Homo sapiens: one gene and its partners. The protein of the gene in region 2 purifies or fractionates together with the protein of the main gene of each other region. This does not show direct contact. Each region holds a gene or a part of one and is shown on either strand. Other genes may lie near its edges.

The links. Proteins that work in one complex are often made in the same cells at the same time.
Region 1: the proteins of KIF2B (region 2) and TXLNG purify together in Homo sapiens (affinity purification with mass spectrometry; 2 studies listed by BioGRID and IntAct, with this or other methods). This does not show direct contact.
Region 3: the proteins of KIF2B (region 2) and NEK1 purify together in Homo sapiens (affinity purification with mass spectrometry; 2 studies listed by BioGRID and IntAct, with this or other methods). This does not show direct contact.

What each region holds. Positions count from the first base shown.
Region 1 is NC_000023.11:16,782,321-16,789,485, forward strand, and holds the start of TXLNG (gamma-taxilin), read left to right. Parts: upstream 1-4,145; 5' UTR 4,146-4,167; coding exon 4,168-4,269; intron 4,270-7,165. UniProt on the Homo sapiens protein: May be involved in intracellular vesicle traffic. Inhibits ATF4-mediated transcription, possibly by dimerizing with ATF4 to form inactive dimers that cannot bind DNA. May be involved in regulating bone mass density through an ATF4-dependent pathway.
Region 2 is NC_000017.11:53,819,074-53,825,710, forward strand, and holds KIF2B (kinesin-like protein KIF2B), read left to right. Parts: upstream 1-3,853; 5' UTR 3,854-3,960; coding exon 3,961-5,982; 3' UTR 5,983-6,120; downstream 6,121-6,637.
Region 3 is NC_000004.12:169,392,564-169,399,592, forward strand, and holds the end of NEK1 (serine/threonine-protein kinase Nek1), read right to left. Parts: intron 1,961-7,029; coding exon 1,947-1,960; 3' UTR 246-1,946; downstream 1-245. UniProt on the Homo sapiens protein: Phosphorylates serines and threonines, but also appears to possess tyrosine kinase activity. Involved in DNA damage checkpoint control and for proper DNA damage repair.

The DNA of each region.
Region 1 (7,165 bases), on a different chromosome or scaffold from region 2:
TCTCTTGAGCCTACGAGTTTGAGACCAGCCTGGGCAACATAGGGAGACACCCTCCTACCATTTCTACAAATATATATATATATATATATATATATATATATATATATATATTTAATTAGCCAGGTGTAGTGGTACACACCTGTGGTCCCAGCTACTTGGGAGGCTGAGGCAGGAGGAACACCTGAGCCCAGCAGGTGGCGGCTGCAGTGAGCCGTGATGGCACCACTGAAATCCAGCCTGGGTGACAGAGTGAGACCCTGTCACCAAAAATAAATAATAAAAATAAAAATAACAGCATTAGAATGGGCTCACATTAGTGAAATCAGGGATATTCAAGATATATGCATTGTTTAAAATATGTGAGACTCTACTCACTTTTGCGTTAAAAGAGTATAAGAATCTTTCTTAAAAAAAAAATCTTTGTCATACAGACAATTAATAAGAAAAAAAAAAAGAATCTAGCAAGTCCGAAGCTTGTTTCCTTCAGGATAATACTCTAGGCTAAACCTCTAAACCGTCCTGTGTCCAGCTATAAACTCTGAGGGTTGCAGTTTCCTGATATCGGCTATAAGGCCAACAGAATCCTGCCTCTGTAATAGTGGTGAGTCCACCTTGAGAGCTCTACATTTCATCACAACGGTGGTCAGAGCATCTCAAAGGTCAAAGAGTTGGGACCTCATTGAGCTTACTGTTCACATGAATTGTTTGATGCCTGCTTGCTCAAGACTTTAATAAACATCTGAATAAATGGAGCCATATTCAGGTTATATTCACATTCCTTAGGGAGCCTGGAGAGAACACCCCGTACCCAATGAGGAGCTATTGTTCTGGTGGCCTTTACCCTTCTAGCAGGCACAGTGTTTGTTTTTTTTTTTTTTTTGAGATAGAGTTTCCCTCTGTCACCCAGGCTGGAGTGCAGTGGCATGAACTCGGCTCACTGCAACCTCTGCCTCCTGGGTTCAAACGATTTTCCTGCCTCAGCCTCCCCGAGTAGCTGGGACTACAGGCACACGCCACCATGCCCAGCTGATTTTTTTTTTTTTTTTTTGTATTTTTAGAAGAGACGAGGTTTCACCATGTTGGTCAGGCTGGTTTCAAACCCCTGACCTCAGGTGATCCGCCCTCCTCTGCCTCCCAAAGTACTGGGATTACAGGCGTGAGCCACAGCGCCCGGCTTTTTTATTTGATAACTTTATTTATTTAGAGACGAGGTCTCGCTTTGTCGCCTACGCTGGTTTCAAACTCCGGGGCTCAGGCGATGCTCTTGCCTCAGCCTCCTAAACTGCTGAGATTACAGGTGTGAGCCACGCCTGCAGGCACAGTTAAAAGACAATAGTCCTGGCGCAAAGGTGAGATCAATGTAAACAGAACATTGGATGACCCTTAAAGTCTTGGACATAAAGAAAGGATAGGCCAGGCATTGCGGCTCAAGCCCGTAATCCCAGCACTTTGGGAGGACGAGTTGGGCAGAGGACGAGTCGGGCAGAGCACTTGTGGCCAGGAGTTTGAGAGCAGCCTGGCCAACATGGCGAAACCCCATCTCTACTAAAAATGCAAAAATTAGCCGGGTGTGGTGGTGCACGCCAGTAATCCCAGCTACTAGGGAGGCTGAGACACGAGAATTCCTTGAACCTGGGAGGTGCAGATTGCAGTGGGCTGAGATCATGCCACTGCACTCCAGCCTGGGCGACAGAGCAAGACTCTGCATTAAAAAAAAAAAAAAAAAGAGGCCAGGCACGGTGGCTCAGGCCTGTAATCCCAGCACTTTGGGAGGCCGAGGTGGACGGATCACAAGGTCAAGAGATGAAGACCATTCTGGCGAACGTGGTGAAACCCCCTCTCTACTAAAAATAGAAAAATTAGCTGGGCGTGGTGGGGCGCGCCTGTAATCCCAGCTACTTGGGAGGCTGAGGCAGGAGAATCACTTGAACCCGGGAGGCAGAGGTTGCAGTGAGCCGAGATTGGCCACTGCACTCCAGCTTGGGCAACAAGAGCAAAACTCTGTCTCAAAAAAAAAAAAAAAAAAAAAGATATGCATTTAATTCAATTAAATATTTTTCATTTCTCTGAAGGCTTGGGGTTAATGGCATAGTTCTTTTCTTTTCTTTTTATTTTTTGAGACGGAGTCTCGCTCTTGTTGCCCAGGCTAGAGTGCAATGGCGTGATCCCGGCTTACTGCAACCTCCGCCTCCCGGGTTCAAGCGATTCTCCTGCCTCAGCCTCCCTAGTAGCTGGGATTGCAGGCACGTGTCACCACGCCTGGCTAATTCTATTTTTAGCACAGACCGGGTTTCACCACGTTGGTCAGGCTGGTCTTGAACTTCTGACCTCAGGTGATCCGCCCGCCTCGGCCTCCCAAAGTGCCGGGGTTACAGGCGTGAGCCACCGTGGCCGGCCTCTTTCCTTAATAAAGATAACTTTATTGATTTTTTTCATTCCATACATACTTAAACAATATAGAAAATCATGAAATTTGAAACCAGCCTGGGCAACATAATGCCCCATCTCTAAAAAAAAATTTTTTTTTGAGGAATAACTTACTTTTGTGTGTGTGTGTGTGATGGAGTTTCTCCTCACCCAGGCTGGAGTGTTCAATGGCACGATCTTGGCTCACTGCAACCTCTGCTGCCCGGGTTCAAGCGATTCTCCTGTCTCAGATCCCAAATAGCTGGAATTACAGAAGCCCACCACCGGCTGGGGGCGGTTGCTCACACCTGTAATCCCAGCACTTTGGGAGGCCGAGGAGGGCAGATCAGGGGGTCAGAAGTTCAAGACCAGCCTGGCCAACATGGTGAAACCCCTCTCTCTACTAAAAATACAAAAATTAGCCCAGCGTGGTGGCACGTGCCTGCAATCCCAGCTACTCGGGAGGCTGAGGCAGGAGAATTGCTTGAACCTGGGAGGCGGAGGTTGCAGTGAGCTGAGATCGTGCCACTGCACTCCAGCTTTGGGTGACAGCAAGACTCCGTCTTGGGAAAACAAAAACAAAGAAAAAAGAAAAGCCCACCACCACCACCATGCCCGGCTAATTTTTGTATTTTTAGTAGAGACGGAGTTTCACTGTGTTGGCCAGGCTGGTCTGGAACTCCTGACCTTGTGATCCACCCGCCTCGGTCCCCCAAGGTGTTGGCATTACAGGCGTGAGCCACCGCGCCCGGCCTCATAATGAATTATTTAAGACAATATATCAGGATTTCATGATGGTCTGTGCCTTTCAGAAGCTCGGCCATTGGAGATCTGGTTCCATCAGATGGAAATAGGGAATATTCCTGAGGAAATCTCCCCTCTCCCCCCCAACATCATATCAATAAAAAAAAAAATTCGGTTCAGCAAACCGAGTTTGTTGAAAAAATTTAGGTAATGAAACGAGTAAATGGGGTGGGAGAAAGCAGGATACATTCAACATGAATGAAGTGCCAAGTAAGTGTGCAGAAGCCGGGGCGGTTCAACCAAGGTGAATAGAATGCGGCACCTATCCCGCGGGAGCTCGGGACAAGTAAACCGTGGTAACAACTCTGGTGGAGGGGCAGGGCTCGGGGCAGGTGCCCGAGCACGAAACTTCAAATTCTAAGAGCCAATACACCTTCCGTCTTGAAAGTCGTGAAGTATTTTCCCTTATCCCCAAATCATTCGCGCCCAATTCCTAAGAACGGCAACAAAAACAAAAACACAAGAATGTGTCGCCGATCGTGCTCCTTCTCAAACACGGGGATATTTCTAAACTTTCCGCGAAAGATCATAACGAGTACCTTCCTATAGCCAGACATCGCCCCCAGAAACCGCAAGTCCCACTAGGATGCACACGAAGCACACTGGGTGCAGCACTCTCCCCTTTTCAGAACGCCGCCTTATGTCCCAATCCCGATCCGAGCCTGCGAGCTGTGGCCGCACGCCCTGCTGGGACTTGTAGTCCACTCCCGAGTCCCATTCCCGATCCGCGCAGACTCACACGGCCTCTATCTGCCCTTCGGTCTTGCTGAAGCCCAGCCCAGTATTCAATGCTCCCCATCCCCATCTCGCTCCGTCCCCTCGGGGGCCAACCTCCTCCGGTCACGTGGGAAGTCTCACATGCGGCGATTGGTCGTGGGGGCTCGGGGGCGGGGCGAAAGGCCCTGCGAGATTCTGTGCCCCTTGTCGGGCCGCTTGTTTGGCTGCTGCCGTCACCTCATGGCGACGCGGGTAGAGGAGGCAGCGCGGGGAAGAGGCGGCGGCGCCGAAGAGGCGACTGAGGCCGGACGGGGCGGACGGCGACGCAGCCCGCGGCAGAAGGTCAGTCAGGGGGACGCCCTCGTTGTTGTCGGGCCCGGGGGATGTTTGGGCTCCCTTTTTCAGGGTCCACCTCTTCTCTCTCCCTGGTTACCTATAGCCACGGGACGAACATCCGGTCTTCTTCCCTCCCGGGGGTGACGACAGTGGGAGCAGGTGGGGGGGGGTGGGACCGCGATGGATGGGGTGGGAAGGGACGACGGTTGGGGTTTGGCGGCGCGCGGCGGGGAAGCCGGGAGGGAGGGCAGGGGGCGCACGCGGTTCTAAGGGAGAAGGGGTGCGAGGCGGGGGTGCGCCAGGTGTGACAGCCACGTGCGGCCAGCACCGCGGGGATCCGGGCGCCAGGCGTTCCTTCTCCCAGTCACCGCCGTCACCGTGCTCCCGGCGCTGAGCGCCGCCGTCCGGGGGCTCGCTGGGGTCGTGGGCTCGCCCTCCTGGCGTCGGGCAGGTGCGCAGGGCGCGCTGCGGGGTGCCCCCGGGCTGCTCAGGCTAGGCTGTTGCGCAGTAAGATAACCGCGCGGGAGCCGGGGTGTGCTTGGCCCCCCTTCCCCCGCCCCCCTGCGCTCCCCGCCACTGCGCGGGCGGGCAGGCGAGCGGGTGAGTGTCGCAGGGCCGGTGCGAGCGGGACGCTCGGCCCCCGGGACCTAGACCCCGGGGCTCCGAGGGCTTGGCTGCACGTGGGGCCGGGGATGGATGGGGAGGCGATGCTGGAGGACCTCGGTCCTGCAGAGTTGGGATATCGCATGATAGCTGGTCCTCCCAGTCCTATTTACCACCCTCCTCTTTTTTCCCCTCTTTTTTTTCTTTCATTTATTATTTTTTTAATTTGATGAGTGGAAACTTGAATGCCTTCCCGACCCTGGCCTTGGGTCTTTCTTAATCTGGGAAACAGGCCGGACTGTTCCCCTTGCCTTACTTGACTCACGTCAAGGAGTTTTCAGTCCCTCCCTAGATACAGGAAAATTGAGACCTCTTTCAGAACGGGACAATTCCACTTGTTCTGGAGCTCAGTGGGTGGAGTTTGAAAAAGATTGCACAACGAACGGGGTACAGGGTTTTCGGGGCCCTGGAATGGATAATTGCGGGGACTGAGACTGGGAAGGTGGGAACCCCATCTCTTTTTTTCCTTGCAGGTGAACATACTGAAACGTTCGACTTGTTGGATATCTTGCTTGATCACCGAGGGCTATTTAATATTACTTAATTATGTATTTGAACACTCTTAACTCCTGTATGAAATTACGAAATAATATTTTTCTAATGCAATTCATAAACTTCAAATGGGAGAACAAAGGTCCAGTTTACGTCTGAGCAGAGTGTTAAGAATTAGCTTTTTGGGGCCTGTTTCTAAGGTCAGGTATTTTCATGTTTCTGCATGACAGTGTTACTACTTCTCAATTACCTCTCTTTCTTTCTCTCCCTCTCTTTGTATTCTAAAAGAAAGATCCAGTGCTTGCAGGACTGAAAAAGAAGCTGTGGACCAATGTCCTGTAAGGGATTCAACACCATCACTTTGGACACTTCACTTATTCCCTAAGGGTGGAGTGCCAATCTCAGTGTTTGATTTCGTAGGTTCCCCAGGGGAGGAGGACTCTGATAAAAAGCCACTGCAATTGAGGATATAAGTTCCCTTTTATGACACTGGGATAAGGACAAAAAGTCGTTGAATTAGGAACTGAGGTTTAATCAACTAGCATTTAAAATAACCAAGATAGGAGGTAATGACCCTTTGAGGTGCAGAGCTCTGGTTAACAGCTGGATAGGAATAGTCATGTGTGTGTCTACTCATTTTTGTTTATGTACCTCATACTCCATTCTTCTTTGCTTATGCTCTTCTGAGCATCTTTTTCTTTTTGATTTCTAACTGACAGTGACGGCATTCAAATACATGGTAAAATATTAATCTTTGAATTTTCATTTAACAAATTGGGTGAATTATCTTGTGTTTGCAAGAATCATTTTTAAGCCAGCTATGGTGGCATGCACCTGTAGTACCACCTAGTCAGGAGACTGAAGCAGGAGGCTAGCCTGGGCCGCAGAGTGAGACCCTGTCTCTTAAAAAAACAAACAAACTTGTTGTGTTTTTTTTTTTTTTTTTTGAGTCAGAGTCTTGCTCTGTTACCCAGGCTGCAGTGCAGTGATGCAATCTTGGCTCACTGCATCTTCCACCTCGTGGGTTCCAGCGATTCTCGTGCCTCAGCCTCCTGAGTAGCTGGGATTACAGATGTGTGCTACCACGCCCAGCTAATTTTTATATTTTTAGTAGAAACAGGGTTTCACCATGTTGGCCAGGCTGGTCTTGAACTCCTGGCCTCAGGTAAGCCACCCACCTTGGCCTTCCAAAGTGGCGGGATTACAGGCATGAGCCACTGCAACTGGCCAAAAATTTTTTTAAAAATCATTTTTACATTACTTCATTGTGTCCCTTAATTTTAAAATTTCTTTTGGGTCACTGACTTGAAAAAATATTTCTTAATTCCAGCTTAACTTCTATCCTTTTTTTCAGGAAGCAGAAATGTTTAATGAATTGAGTTTTTTGAAAATATTGAAAGAATTAAAAGAAAAGTGAGTGTTTTGTCATTATCTAGTTACATTATGGGACCTGAAGTGAGGAACAATTGGAGATGGGCTTTTTTGGTTCCTGGTTGCTTTAACCATCTGCCTAGTCACTCGCGACCTGCTCAGTTAATTGTGGCATTGTTTCATAACTACAACCATTTGAATGGTCTCTTGAGGTAACCTTTTGCTTCTAAAGGTAATGTTACAGTACATTACTAGGGGTCTCTTCAGGAATTTTCTAAAACTGTGCTGATAGTAGCCACTAGTGACATGTAGCTAAATTTGTTAACTAAAATTAAAATTAAAAATTTTTTTCTTCAGTTATACTAACCAAGTTTCA
Region 2 (6,637 bases):
TAAAACAGTGTTAGAAAGGCACGTATGTGATGCATATCTCCTGGGAGATCTGTATCTAAAATGAGACTAGAAATCACATTCTCTTGTATAAATCAACTTTGACAAGCCCCAAACTGGGAATATATCTGTAATTAATAAATGAAAATTACAAAGCTCATTTCCTGCGCTTACTTCCACCCACCCTACCCACTCTTGTGGGGCTACACCTGACACTTATTAGGCTTTTGAAAAAAGGAGACTTAAAATAAAGAGAATCTATCACTCAACGGTTTGTCAAGGCATGAGCTTTTTTAGTAGGTTCACAGAACAAAATGTGTAAATGGTAAGTTCCTTGAAGGATTTCTTTGACATAAGAAATAGCACAAAGTGAGCATGTACTGCTTGGTTCTATTCAGTTAAAAATATAGGGGTGGCTTTGGTCTCTAATCTGGAGAAACTGCTCATCTACCAAAAGCTATTCAGGGCATGGCCAAGGCTGATATCTTGCATCTAGGGCCTTCTTGTTTTGACAAATGCTGTATTTATCTCATTACTCAAGGTTCACAGTGGTTTTTGGTTTTAAGATGGACTAGTCTGGCAGAATAAATTCCATTAAATGAGAGAGTTAGGCAGATGGTTTCTGAATTGTGAATTTTATATCAGCAAATATAAAAAGGGATTGCTCCAAAGAAGTTCCAGACTATTGGAATTGTAAAAGCACCCAATCAGCTCTCTATAAACAGGTTACTGTTATTTTTCACCAATGAGAATTTTTTTTAATGTACTACTAAAAATTAGGCTTTGGGTTCCCTTGACTAGCCAAATTCGACCAGTAATAGACACCATTTCTTCAGAAGGGGTGTCTTTATCTAATGCTATTTTGCCTGGCTATTGTCAAGAAGGTCAGAGAAACCTGTCCAGGGTAGTGATGTTTGAGGTAGGTATTGAAGAGCTCAGGAAAACCATGAAGACAAGGAAGGATTATTGTCAGAGGGCTGTACTAGTAATTCTCAAAATGTTGTCCCTGCACCCAGCAGCACCAACATTGCCTGGGAACTTGTTAAACATGAGAATTTTCAGCCCCACTTCAGACTTACTGAATCAACAACTCTGGCATGGAGCCTAGTAGCCTGTGTTTTAACAAGCCCTGCAGTTGATTTTCACATATCTTAATATTGAGAACCACCGGACTAGCAATTTGAAATTTGAAAGAAAATGGTGTGTTTGAAGGGCTGCAATTTCTTCCACATGGCTCAATTTTAGATTAAGTATGGATAGTGGGAAATCTTGAGGATGACAAAGCAGGCAAGATGATGATGTGCCTTAAGTCTTCATATGGAATTTATACCATATCATTAGGATGATGAGGAGCTAACAAATGCTTAAAAGCAGTGAATTAATAAGGAAGAACCTGTTAAAATAACTCTAGGAGCAGTGTGAGAAATAGACTAAGTCCCTGACTGGATGAGGTTGCAAAAAAAAAAAAAAAAAGAAAAAAGAAAACAAGCTCATAATTGGTTGGGAGATTAAATGATATCATGGTTATGGAAGACTTCTAGAGACTGGGAAAGGACTACCTAAGTTAGGATGGGCTGAAAGGGGAAGAACACAAAGATCTGTGTCAGGATTTTAAAGATGAGTAAATGTTGAAGTTACTAAAAGCAATTAAAAATAACAAAGACCTGCCATTTTCAGTAAGAAAATAACAGAATCAGTTTTGGATTTGTTAACTTTTTAGTTCCTGCAGGTGACTACAAGTTTAGGACTCATAATTCTGGTTATCAACAATCTATCTAGCCAGCTTTATATAAAATTAAACTGTAGGAACAAATGCAATATACTAGGGAAACTATATAAAAGAGAAAAGAACTGAAAAAAAGTCCTGAAATTGCTATGAAAACCTGTATGAACATGTTGGAGAGAAAGAGGGAGTAAAAGGAAACTTTTCTCTCTGATTTTGGCACTATTATCATGGATCTGCTCATCCATTGTCTGTCTAAAACATTACTAGCTAAGATGAAAACCCTATGGCTAGCCTGGAGGGTCTAGAGTTTTCATAATTTTGAGAGAGACCCAGCTTTTTCAAAGGTAACGGTTAAAAAAACAAAGCAAAACAAACTATTATGTGGGCTCAGTGGCTCAAGCCTATATTTCTATCACTTTGGGAGGGTGAGAAGGGAGACTCCCTTGAGGTCAGGAGTTTGAGACCAGTCTCTGTGCAACACAGCGAGACCTCATCCCTAGCAAAAAAAAAAAAAAGAAAAAAAAAAAAAAGAAAGAAACAAAGAAAGAAAATAGCAAAGCATCCTGACACATGCCTGTAATTCCAGCTACTCAGGAAGCTGAGATGGTAGGATGGCTTTAACCTAGGAGTATGAGGTGGCAGTGAGCTATGATCAGGCCACTGTACTCCAACTTGAATGACAGAGTGCTAATGACAAATACAGTGTATTAAGAATATCTACATCATGGCCTTGAAACCAAGAAAGAACAACTGATTTAAAGCACAACTTTAAGTATTGATAATTTGGGGAAATAAAACATGATATTTTTTAGAAGACAATTGCCTAAAGCCCTTTCTCCTCTCCCTCCACCTGCATACAACCTCCTCTTGAAATGAGCACTGCTTACTTATCTAATTTATCCAGTATCCTCCTTCCACCTTCTTTTCAAAATCTAAGCTTTACTAGACTGACTGAACAGAAAAGTTAGTTTATAGTAGAATTTATTTCTATAGAGGCCCTTATTCCTAGGGAAGGTTGTAACTTGCTACTTCATGTTACTTTGGAGCTATAATTATGATAAAATTCAACAGTCCAAAAGACAACATGCACGGGTGTTGCTAGTGAGCTGAACGTAAGGCATCACCCTTACTCTGAGCTTGGCCTGTCTAAAAGTCAATGTCATTTATTTTATAAGCTAATTCTTATGCATGAAAATATTGCAATCTTGGCAAAATATATTTTTGCATCCGATGGTCTTAGCTGCCTTCCAGCCTTGCTTAACAACTTCTAAAGGACACACACAAGTACTGCAGGGGTGGGGGGAGTATAAGATTAATTATCTCTTTCCACACAATGCCTTTTCTTTCTCTCCCAATTATGGATAATGAGGCCAGAAGTGTAATTACTGAAGGAGTTTGGAAAGGTAATTACTGAACTAATCTCAAAAATGGTGGTGACCACAGCACAACAAAACTCACTTTATAGCTGTCAGAGCCACTTGGAATGTGATACACATGTTGTGTTTGCAAACCCAGGTGCTGTACGAAAGGTAGTTTCATATTAGCAAATTACCACAACGACCTGCTACATTCTACTCATTTTGATTTTGTAATGAGAAAGCCGATTAAACTGTAATAACTTTAAGTTGTGACTCTTAAACAAGTTACACGTTTTGAAGGAGGTGAAAAAACAAAGATGGCGGGTTTGAGGAGCCTTTCTGGGATCCTGTTGAATATCGAGTCCTGAGATTTGCAAATAGCTCTACCTTCATCTATTCCCACTGATCACTGGAGAGTTAAAGTTTAAGGAAACTTCATAGCAATTCTCAAATTAAAGCACTGAGCTTTGAGACTGCCAGCCAAGGCCTCCTTTTATGCTTAGGCATAAATGTACACGGGACATATAAATTAAATTTCAACGCCATGGTTCCCGTTGCTTCTCTGTTACCTGTTCTTTCTCGCCATGATCCGGAGAGCACGCCACATCCTCCTCCAACCCCTTCACCCTCACTGGCAGAGAACAATCTCTCCATCCCTTTGTGCTCCCGTACCATTCACTCCTAAGCCCTAGGTTCTGCCGCCTCATCTCATCCCTTTGTGACGTAGTGGCCCCAGTCCGGGCCCCGGCGCGCTAGGCTCACAAAGGCAGGCACAGACTGCAACCCTGCTCAGTGCTCCGGGCGCTTCAGGCTGGCTTGGGTCCTGCTGCTCCAACCCCAAGGGCCCTGGAGCGCTCCCTGATACCTCCATCACTCACCATGGCCAGCCAGTTCTGCCTCCCTGAATCCCCATGTCTCTCGCCCCTGAAACCCTTGAAGCCACATTTCGGAGACATCCAAGAGGGCATCTACGTGGCGATCCAGCGCAGTGACAAGCGGATCCACCTCGCTGTGGTCACGGAGATCAACAGAGAAAACTATTGGGTCACGGTAGAGTGGGTGGAGAAAGCAGTCAAAAAAGGCAAGAAGATTGACCTGGAGACCATACTCCTGCTGAATCCAGCTCTGGACTCTGCTGAACACCCCATGCCGCCCCCGCCCTTATCCCCCTTGGCTCTGGCGCCCTCTTCGGCCATCAGGGACCAGCGTACCGCCACGAAATGGGTTGCGATGATCCCCCAGAAAAACCAAACAGCCTCAGGGGACAGCCTGGATGTGAGGGTCCCCAGCAAACCTTGTCTGATGAAGCAGAAAAAGTCTCCCTGCCTCTGGGAAATCCAGAAACTGCAGGAGCAGCGGGAAAAGCGCAGGCGGCTGCAGCAGGAGATCCGAGCTAGACGCGCCCTCGATGTCAATACCAGAAACCCCAACTACGAAATCATGCACATGATCGAAGAGTATCGCAGGCACCTGGACAGCAGCAAGATCTCAGTCCTGGAGCCCCCGCAAGAACATCGCATCTGCGTCTGCGTGAGGAAGCGGCCTCTCAACCAGCGAGAGACAACCTTAAAGGACCTGGATATCATCACCGTCCCCTCGGACAATGTGGTTATGGTGCATGAGTCCAAGCAAAAGGTGGACCTCACTCGCTACCTGCAGAACCAGACCTTCTGCTTCGACCATGCCTTCGATGACAAAGCCTCCAACGAGTTGGTGTACCAGTTCACCGCCCAGCCACTGGTGGAGTCCATCTTCCGCAAGGGCATGGCCACCTGCTTTGCCTATGGGCAGACGGGAAGTGGGAAGACGTACACCATGGGTGGAGACTTTTCAGGAACGGCCCAAGATTGTTCTAAGGGCATTTATGCTCTGGTGGCACAGGATGTCTTTCTCCTGCTCAGAAACTCCACATATGAGAAGCTGGACCTCAAAGTCTATGGGACATTTTTTGAGATTTATGGGGGCAAGGTGTATGATTTGTTGAACTGGAAGAAGAAGCTGCAAGTCCTTGAGGATGGCAATCAGCAAATCCAAGTGGTCGGGCTGCAGGAGAAAGAGGTGTGTTGTGTGGAGGAAGTGCTGAACCTGGTGGAAATAGGGAATAGCTGTCGGACTTCCAGGCAAACACCTGTCAACGCTCACTCATCCAGGAGCCATGCAGTGTTCCAGATCATCCTGAAGTCAGGACGGATAATGCATGGCAAGTTTTCCCTCGTTGATTTAGCTGGGAATGAAAGAGGAGCAGATACAACCAAGGCCAGCCGGAAAAGGCAGCTGGAAGGGGCAGAGATTAACAAGAGTCTTCTAGCCCTCAAAGAATGTATTCTGGCTTTGGGTCAGAACAAGCCTCACACCCCATTCAGAGCCAGCAAACTCACACTGGTGCTCCGGGACTCCTTTATAGGCCAGAACTCCTCCACTTGCATGATTGCTACCATCTCTCCGGGGATGACCTCTTGTGAAAACACTCTCAACACTTTAAGATATGCAAACAGAGTAAAAAAATTAAATGTAGATGTAAGGCCCTACCATCGTGGCCACTATCCGATTGGACATGAGGCACCAAGGATGTTAAAAAGTCACATCGGAAATTCAGAAATGTCCCTTCAGAGGGATGAATTTATTAAAATACCTTATGTACAGAGTGAGGAGCAGAAAGAGATTGAAGAGGTTGAAACATTACCCACTCTGTTAGGGAAGGATACCACAATTTCAGGGAAGGGATCTAGCCAATGGCTGGAAAACATCCAGGAGAGAGCTGGTGGAGTACACCATGATATTGATTTTTGCATTGCCCGGTCTTTGTCCATTTTGGAGCAGAAAATTGATGCTCTGACCGAGATCCAAAAGAAACTGAAATTATTACTAGCTGACCTCCACGTGAAGAGCAAGGTAGAGTGAAGCCAATGGCGAGAGATCAGGTCCGAAATGCTGCATTGCTGCAGTTTCCACCACTCTTATACAGGAAAACTGTCCAAATTATCTAAAGATCCTCCTGAGAAGCTTAAAACATCTTAAAATACACTGATGGGAAACATGCTCTTTCTTCTGCCTCTGTATTTCTGTAGTTTGTTTTCATCCTGCTGAACTATAGTTTTCAACAGGGAATGGTTCCTCCCCACCCCCTACCAGGACATTTGGCGATGTCTGGAAACATTTTTGATTGTCACAACTGGGGGTGATGAGGATACTGGCATACAGTAGTTTGAGGACCAGAAATGCTGCTAAGCATTCTAAAGTGTACAGCAGCAGTCCCCAACCTTTTTGACACCACAGACCGGTTTTGTGGAAGGGAGTTGTTCCGTGGGTGGGGTTGGGGATGAAACTGTTCCACTTCAGATCATCAGGCATTAGTCTCCTAAGGAGCATGCAACAACCTATATCCCTCACATGCACAGTTCACAATAGGGTTCATGCTCCTGTAAGAATCTAATGCTCCTGCTGATCTGACAAGAGGGGGAGCTCAGGCGGTAATGCCCGCTCACTGCCAGCTTGCCTTCTGTTGTGTAGTGTGATTCCCAAAAGACCACAGACCTACCGGTCTGCAGCCCAGGGG
Region 3 (7,029 bases), on a different chromosome or scaffold from region 2:
AGATGGGGTTTCACCATCTTGGCCAGGCTGGTCTTGAACTCCTGACCTCATGATTCACCTGCCTCGGCCTCCCAAATTCCTATCAAATTTATTCTTTTTGGTTCTCTGGGGGAGATAAGAATGTGCAACTAATAACAGTGTAAGACCTAGAAACTGCTCTGACCCTGACCCTTTACACAAGTGACTTAATTTCATGTTCAATATCCTTGCATGTTAAATGCAGAAAAGACAAAGTTATCCTGATAGCCCATTTAATGCTAACATTTATTAATCTACAGATGCTTCCACATGTCAATTCCAACACTTATAATAGACCTTACTGAAAAATAGCCCTTTTCCTCACTGGCATAATCTTTCCATAACAACACTCCAGAGTCACACACTGCTAATCGACTGGAGATGGCACAAATCTTATTGATCATCCTTATTCCTGCACATATATAACATCTTTTGAAATATGGCTAAAACAATTTTTTTCTACCATATTATACCCTTTTCTAATAGTTGTAATAGTTTAAGAATTAATACACAACCTCCCCAAAATCATGCCCATCTTTCAGGATTGTAAAGAATTAAAATATTGAATTCATTTTCTTCCATTATGAAGAAAGAAATCATCAGGTACAAAACCAACAAAAGTATTATCAGCTTGATGTAAAAGCCTTCTATTGAGAAAAGTAAAATAATAAATAAAAGACAATTGATATACTTCAGGTAGATAATAAAAATTTAATAGCAATATCATAAAATAAACACACATATTAAAAAATCAAGTATTTAGTTTCGGATATTAGAAATAATATACATAATAAATTCAACATACTGATAGTGCTGCAAGATAAGATTTTATTTTTCAAATTACATATTATGCCAACCAGCCTGCTTTGGACTCAGAGGTTCAAAAACTTTGCTTTTATTACGAAGAACATCTGGACTGTAGACACCTCTAACGAAACCAGGTTATACTTGGCATATTGTGATTGAAGCTGTGTGATCAACATCTTAATGACCTAACTAAATCCTCTCATAACAGAAAGAAGTTCAACAGGCAAACATTTCCCTCCCTAGGATCCTAGTTACCAAAACTGTCACAGTGTCAAAATAAAAATAATTATTTCCTCCTTTTTAACATCTTATTGTCCTTGAAGCTTATGTATGGAGGAAGTTAAAAACCAAAAGAGCAACTTTAAGCTATATGCTAAGTCAGTGTTAAATCCACAGACTAATTTTTCGATATAGTATTCCTGGTTCTGGTCCTTAAAGAGAAATAAAGGCATTAAACCAACTTTTTATATGTCAAGAAATATAATTTTGCTATTCTTTCATAATCAAATCTTTCAATGATTTCTAAGACTGTTTCTACAGCCTGTGTGCTAGTTCAGGAGACACACTGATTGTAAAAGGACTTGAGAATATAAACTTTAAGGCTAAAAATTTCATCTTCAAAATGTATAGATGTAAACAGAGCCCTTGACAAGGTGATTTAATGTAGAACTGCTGGCCAGAATGAAAACAAGTACTAGACAGAAAAAAGATCATGCTTAAAGACTCCATTGAAAAACCACAGACAGGTCCTTCATGACATAGGTAATTCCTTCAACCTAAAGACATTTGCTGAAACTCAAAGTTACCCTATTGCATAGTAAATCTTCAAAACCATTAAGTCAGGTTCTGGGTCAATGTTTCCTATGCTTTGGTTGGATGATTTAATAAAGTATATATTTTATGAGATTTAACCATGGAATTCAATGAACAAAATAGATAAAATATTAGAATCTTCACTGAAAAATGGCATGTTTCTCCATCTTTTTCATGCAATAAGAAAGTCCATCTTAAATCTGATTTTTTAAATAAATAATTGCTGTATTTCCCACTGAAGCTTGTTATTCTGATAAGCCAAATTCAAATGCTTTCATATAGTTGAGGATTAAAAAACATTTTGAGGATTATTCATCATTATCTGTAGAAAAAAGAAAAAAATTGACTTCATTTCAAATCAAGCTGTATCTACTTTAAAAAAAACCCATTCTTGTTCATGCTAAAGGAGAAGAGCTTTAATGTAGTTTTAAACATACTTTTAAAATTATTTTATCACACATTCCTTGTAAAATATTCAGACAATACAATGAAGAATAAAATGGGAAGCAAAAATCATCTGTAAGTGAAAGACAACCAATGTTAACTTTATATAAATCCTCCCACAATGCTTTCCTATGCATACACAAATATCTTTTAAAAATTACACTAAAATGCAGTTTTGAAACATAGGTTTTCCACTGAAAACACCCTAGTGAATGGAAAGGTGGATACATAAGTGATAATGTAAGATTAGAAAATGCTAATGTTAGAATCTAGGTGGTGGGTGCATGGGTGATCACTGTAAAGTTCTTTCAGATTTTCAATATGATAAAAATTTGACAATAAAATGTTAAAGAATAAATCATGGATATATTCTATGTTGACTTCAATGTCTGCAGAGTATTCTGTTTAATGGATATGACATAACTAACCATTACTATTTATAGACATTTTTGTTATTTTCAATTTTTTTAATTCTAAAGATTATAATCAAGTGAATTAAACAGACTGGTTAACTTAATCTTATATGCAAGCACTATCTTCCACATTCTAGCAAAAGTGATCTTTCATTAAAATCCAAGGGTCATGTCAAATCACTGCACTGCTTAAAACATTTGTTAGCTCCCTGCTGCCTCAAAATGGAATCCACGCTCCTTAACGTGGATTACAAAGCCCTTCATGATCTGGCCTTTTAAATATTTCTCATCTTACCAAATTTCATTCCCCACCTTCCTTAACTGCCCCTATAATTTATGCTTTAGGAACACTGAATTGCTTATAGTTTCCCTACTACATTTTGCATACTTCCATGTATGAGTACTTATTTGCATTAAATTCCCATTTGTCTTTCAGAATCCAACTTTGATGTCCTCTCCCCTAGGAAGACCTATCCTGTCACCATCAATGTAGTTGGATCATTACTTTATAACTTACATACATTTTATTGCTTCCAAGGTAACACTTATCACTGGACTATAATTTACTTACTTTTCAAATAATCAGGAAAGTAATGAACACACATATCCATAATATGTAGAATTAACAAAAGCTAACTTTTGGCCATAGTGGTTTGGATTATTTAAGTAAAACCATATTACAGATGCAGAGTACCCTTTCTCAATCTTACTGCCTTCCTTTCTTCCCCAGGGGCATTTTCAGTACTCTGAAATTGATGTGTATTCTTCCCGCTCATGGTTTTTGCTTTTATTTTTATTACGTACATGCACATCTAAATAAAATTGTTTAGAAACACTACATAAATGGTGTAATATTCTACTTATTCAACTCATCATGTTTGTGGGGCTTATCCATATTGACAGTCGGAATTTAATTCATTCATTTTAGCCGATGTATACAATTTCATTACATAAACGCAGCCCAATATTCCACCTAAAATGAATATGAAGAGAAGGTATGTGTCTCTTTCTTAAGAGTCTATAATGGCCAGGCATAGTGGCTCATGCCTGTAATCCCAGCACTTTGGGAGACCGAGGCAGACAGATCACCTGAGGTCAGGAGTTTGAGACCAGCCTGGCCAACATGGTGAAACCCTGTCTCTACTAAAAATACAAAAATTAGCTGGGTGTGGTGGCACATGCCTGTAATGCCAGCTACTTGGGAGGGTGAGACAGGAGAATTGCTTGAACCTGGGAGGCAGAGGTTGCAGTGAGCCGAGATCATGTCACTGTACTCCAGCCTGGGCGACAGAGCAAGACTCCATCTCAAAAAAAAAAAAAAAAAAAAAAAAAAAAAAAGAAGAATCTATAAACTTGGGCCGCTAATGCTAATACTCAATGTGAGAACATGGTAGCCTCTGCCAGGTTGCCACTGGCCACAGCTGTTATACTCCTCTCCTTGTGGAAGAATTTATTAGGAATACTATCAAATCGCTTACACATTTTATTAGCTCTATTTGACTTCTGACTCTGGATAGTATCTAGCTATGGAAAAAAAAGCATTAACTTTATCAACGGCTGAAGATATTGACGCTTACCAAACCTGCACCATAACAGTATCAGGAGAGTTAAATAGCTGAGGCTGTCTTTTCAGGACTTATATAATTTCCAGTGAAATAAAACAGAAATGTGTTTTTGACAATCTTCTTTTTAACTTGTATCTTAATGACTTGATGTCACTTTCGGGTGAGCGAGATAAAATTTTGCTTACCCCTTCCCTTCTTTACTCTCCCTTTTCCCCAACACAGAAAATAAAAGTGTGTAAGTACCATATGTAGATGACATGGCTTTACCATCTCCTAGATGTGGCCTAAAAGATAGCTGTCTGGACAACTATCTCTAAGACAGGTAGGCTGGGTGCGGTGGGTCACACCTGTAATCCTAACACTTTGGGAAGCTGAGGTGGGAGGACAGCTTCAGGCCAGGAGTTTGAGATCAACATGGCGAAATGCCATCTCTGCCAAAAAAATACAAAAATGAGTCAGGCATGGTAGCTCACGCCAGTAGTACCAGTTACTCAGGAGGCTGAAGTGGGAGGACTGCTTGAGCCCAGGAGGCGGAGGTTGCAGTGAGTTGAGATCATGCCACTGCACTCCAACCTGGGTGACAGAGCAAGGCCCTGTCTCCATAGAAAAAAAAAAATCCCAACAAAAAACTCCCCAAATCAAAAAGAACAGCTATATATGGGCTCTACTGACTTCCAATAAGAAGGAGTGCAAAACGGTTATTCTGAATCAATGAATATGAAATCTATATCTAGTCATTTCATTTAACTCTCATGATTAACAATACAAAACAGCAAGTCATCCACATAATTCAATATCCATTTTATAACCAGTTTCTTTAGTAGCTATAGTAGCAAGTTACAATATTTTATGGGCTGTACTCAATTTTTTTTTAAGCTACACCTGCTGTAATGGTATGTACTAAGAGTTTTAGAAAAGATTGCCAGGGTAGGCATCTTCAATTGCTTTACATTTTTTCTAGGGTGAAGGAATTACTGTCAGGCTTTATGATACAGAACTCTGGGGTTCTCTTTCCCTTTCCATTTGTGTACTAGAGAAAATCTGATATTGCTTCCTGAGTGGTGTATTAACCTAGCCTGATTCTTGGTCCTTTGCAGGGGAAATGGCCTTCTGTGTAGGCTTATATCCTTTTGAAGCCACTCAGTTGTCAAAAGAGGGTGTCAATTCTACCTTGTGAATAAGTTGATTGTTACAGCTCTCCACTTAAGGGGCAAGGCAAACTAAAAGCTCTCCAGATACTTGTTGAGCAAAACTGAACCCCAAGCACATTGTTGCTGATTACTTATGAAAAGCTCTATTGAAACAATACTTAAGGAGAACCGCCTGGAGGTGGAATAGTCTGAATATGAATAGAATTGGTTTGATACACTCTACAGAATTACTGAAATGGAATCATCCTCTGGCTTCGTGCCATTAACTTACAGCATGACATATGAGAAACAGCCTCATGAAATCTAAATATTGTAAAAATTACTGAGGATACTTTTCATTCCATTATAGCACTGTTTTGTAAAATGAAGTCCAAGGTCTCAATAAAATAAGAAATCCACAAGTACCAGAAAATGTTTACCTTTTATATTTTCATTTTGATAAAATTTTTTAATATTTAGAAAAATACAACATGTTTTACAGTAATAATTCACAACTAACAGAAATTTTCTACCACTAAGACTTGAGTTTTTTTTTTTTTACTGGGGTTTATAGACCCTTGGATTCTCATGCCTGAAAAAAATACTTTTTGCTCCTTAAAGGGATCCACATGTTATTCAAGTTTGAGGAACACTGTATGATAGTGCCCTCTTTTTAAAGATCATGGGAAAATTGTTCCTTTGGTTTCAATACCAAAAATAGCTGTCCTCTGAGCAACTAAAATGTTTTGTCTCATGAATACTGTGACTCATGTAATTAATTAGGTTTTCTGCTTTGTGAGAAAGACCAGCACCAAATTTGTTTCCTGTTTTTAGAAAATGTGGAAACCTTTTGAACATGAAGTTTGTATTCTTCATTCCTGGCTTCATGTTATACTGCTTGTGCTCATTTGTCCAATTTGTTGACTTCCCCAAACTTTTTTTTAAAACTTAATTTTCTCTCTTACTATATACATATATATATTTCAATGCAATCTTAGACTTTTTTGTATGAATATGCAAACACATTTTGTATGGAATACAAATACATTTTATAAACATTTTTATTGCTAAAATTAAGCATCAACATTTAAAACCCTCAATTTTAGTCTATGAATTTAACATTTAAAGTAATAAAATTAATGTTTGGGCAAATAATCTAGAAATAAATTCTTGTTCAAAATTTTACATATTGCTTTTTGTGTCTACAAGTTTTGCCAGGTGCAGTGGCTCACACCTGTAATCCCAGCACTTTGGGAGGCCAAGGAGGGGTGAATCATTTGAGGTCAGGAGTTCGAGGCCAGCCTGGCCAACATGGTGAGACCCCATCTCTACTAAAAATACAAAAATTGGCCAGGCATGGTAGCACCTGTAGGCCAAGCTACTCAGGAGGCTGAGGCAGGAGAATCACTTGAACCCAGGAGGCAGAGGTTGCAGTGAGCTGAGACTGTGCCACTGCACTCTAGCCTGGACAACAGAGCAAGACTCCATCTCACACACACAAAAAACGTTTAATACCACATCCTTGATAAGAACTATTCTAGGGCCAGGCGCAGTGGCTCACATTTGTAATCCCAGCACTTTGGGAGGCTGAGGTGTGTGGATCATCTGAGATCAGGAGTTCAAGACCAGCCTGGCCAACATGGTGAAACCCTGTCTCTACTAAAAATACAAAAAGTAGTCAGGTGTGGTGGCGCACGCCTATAATCCCAGCTATTTGGGAGGCTGAGGCAGGAGAATCACTTGAGCCCAGGGGGTGGAGGTTGCAATGAGCCGAGATCACGACACTGCACTCCAGCCTGGGCAATAAGACTCTGTCTCAAAAAAAACAAAAAAAAATGA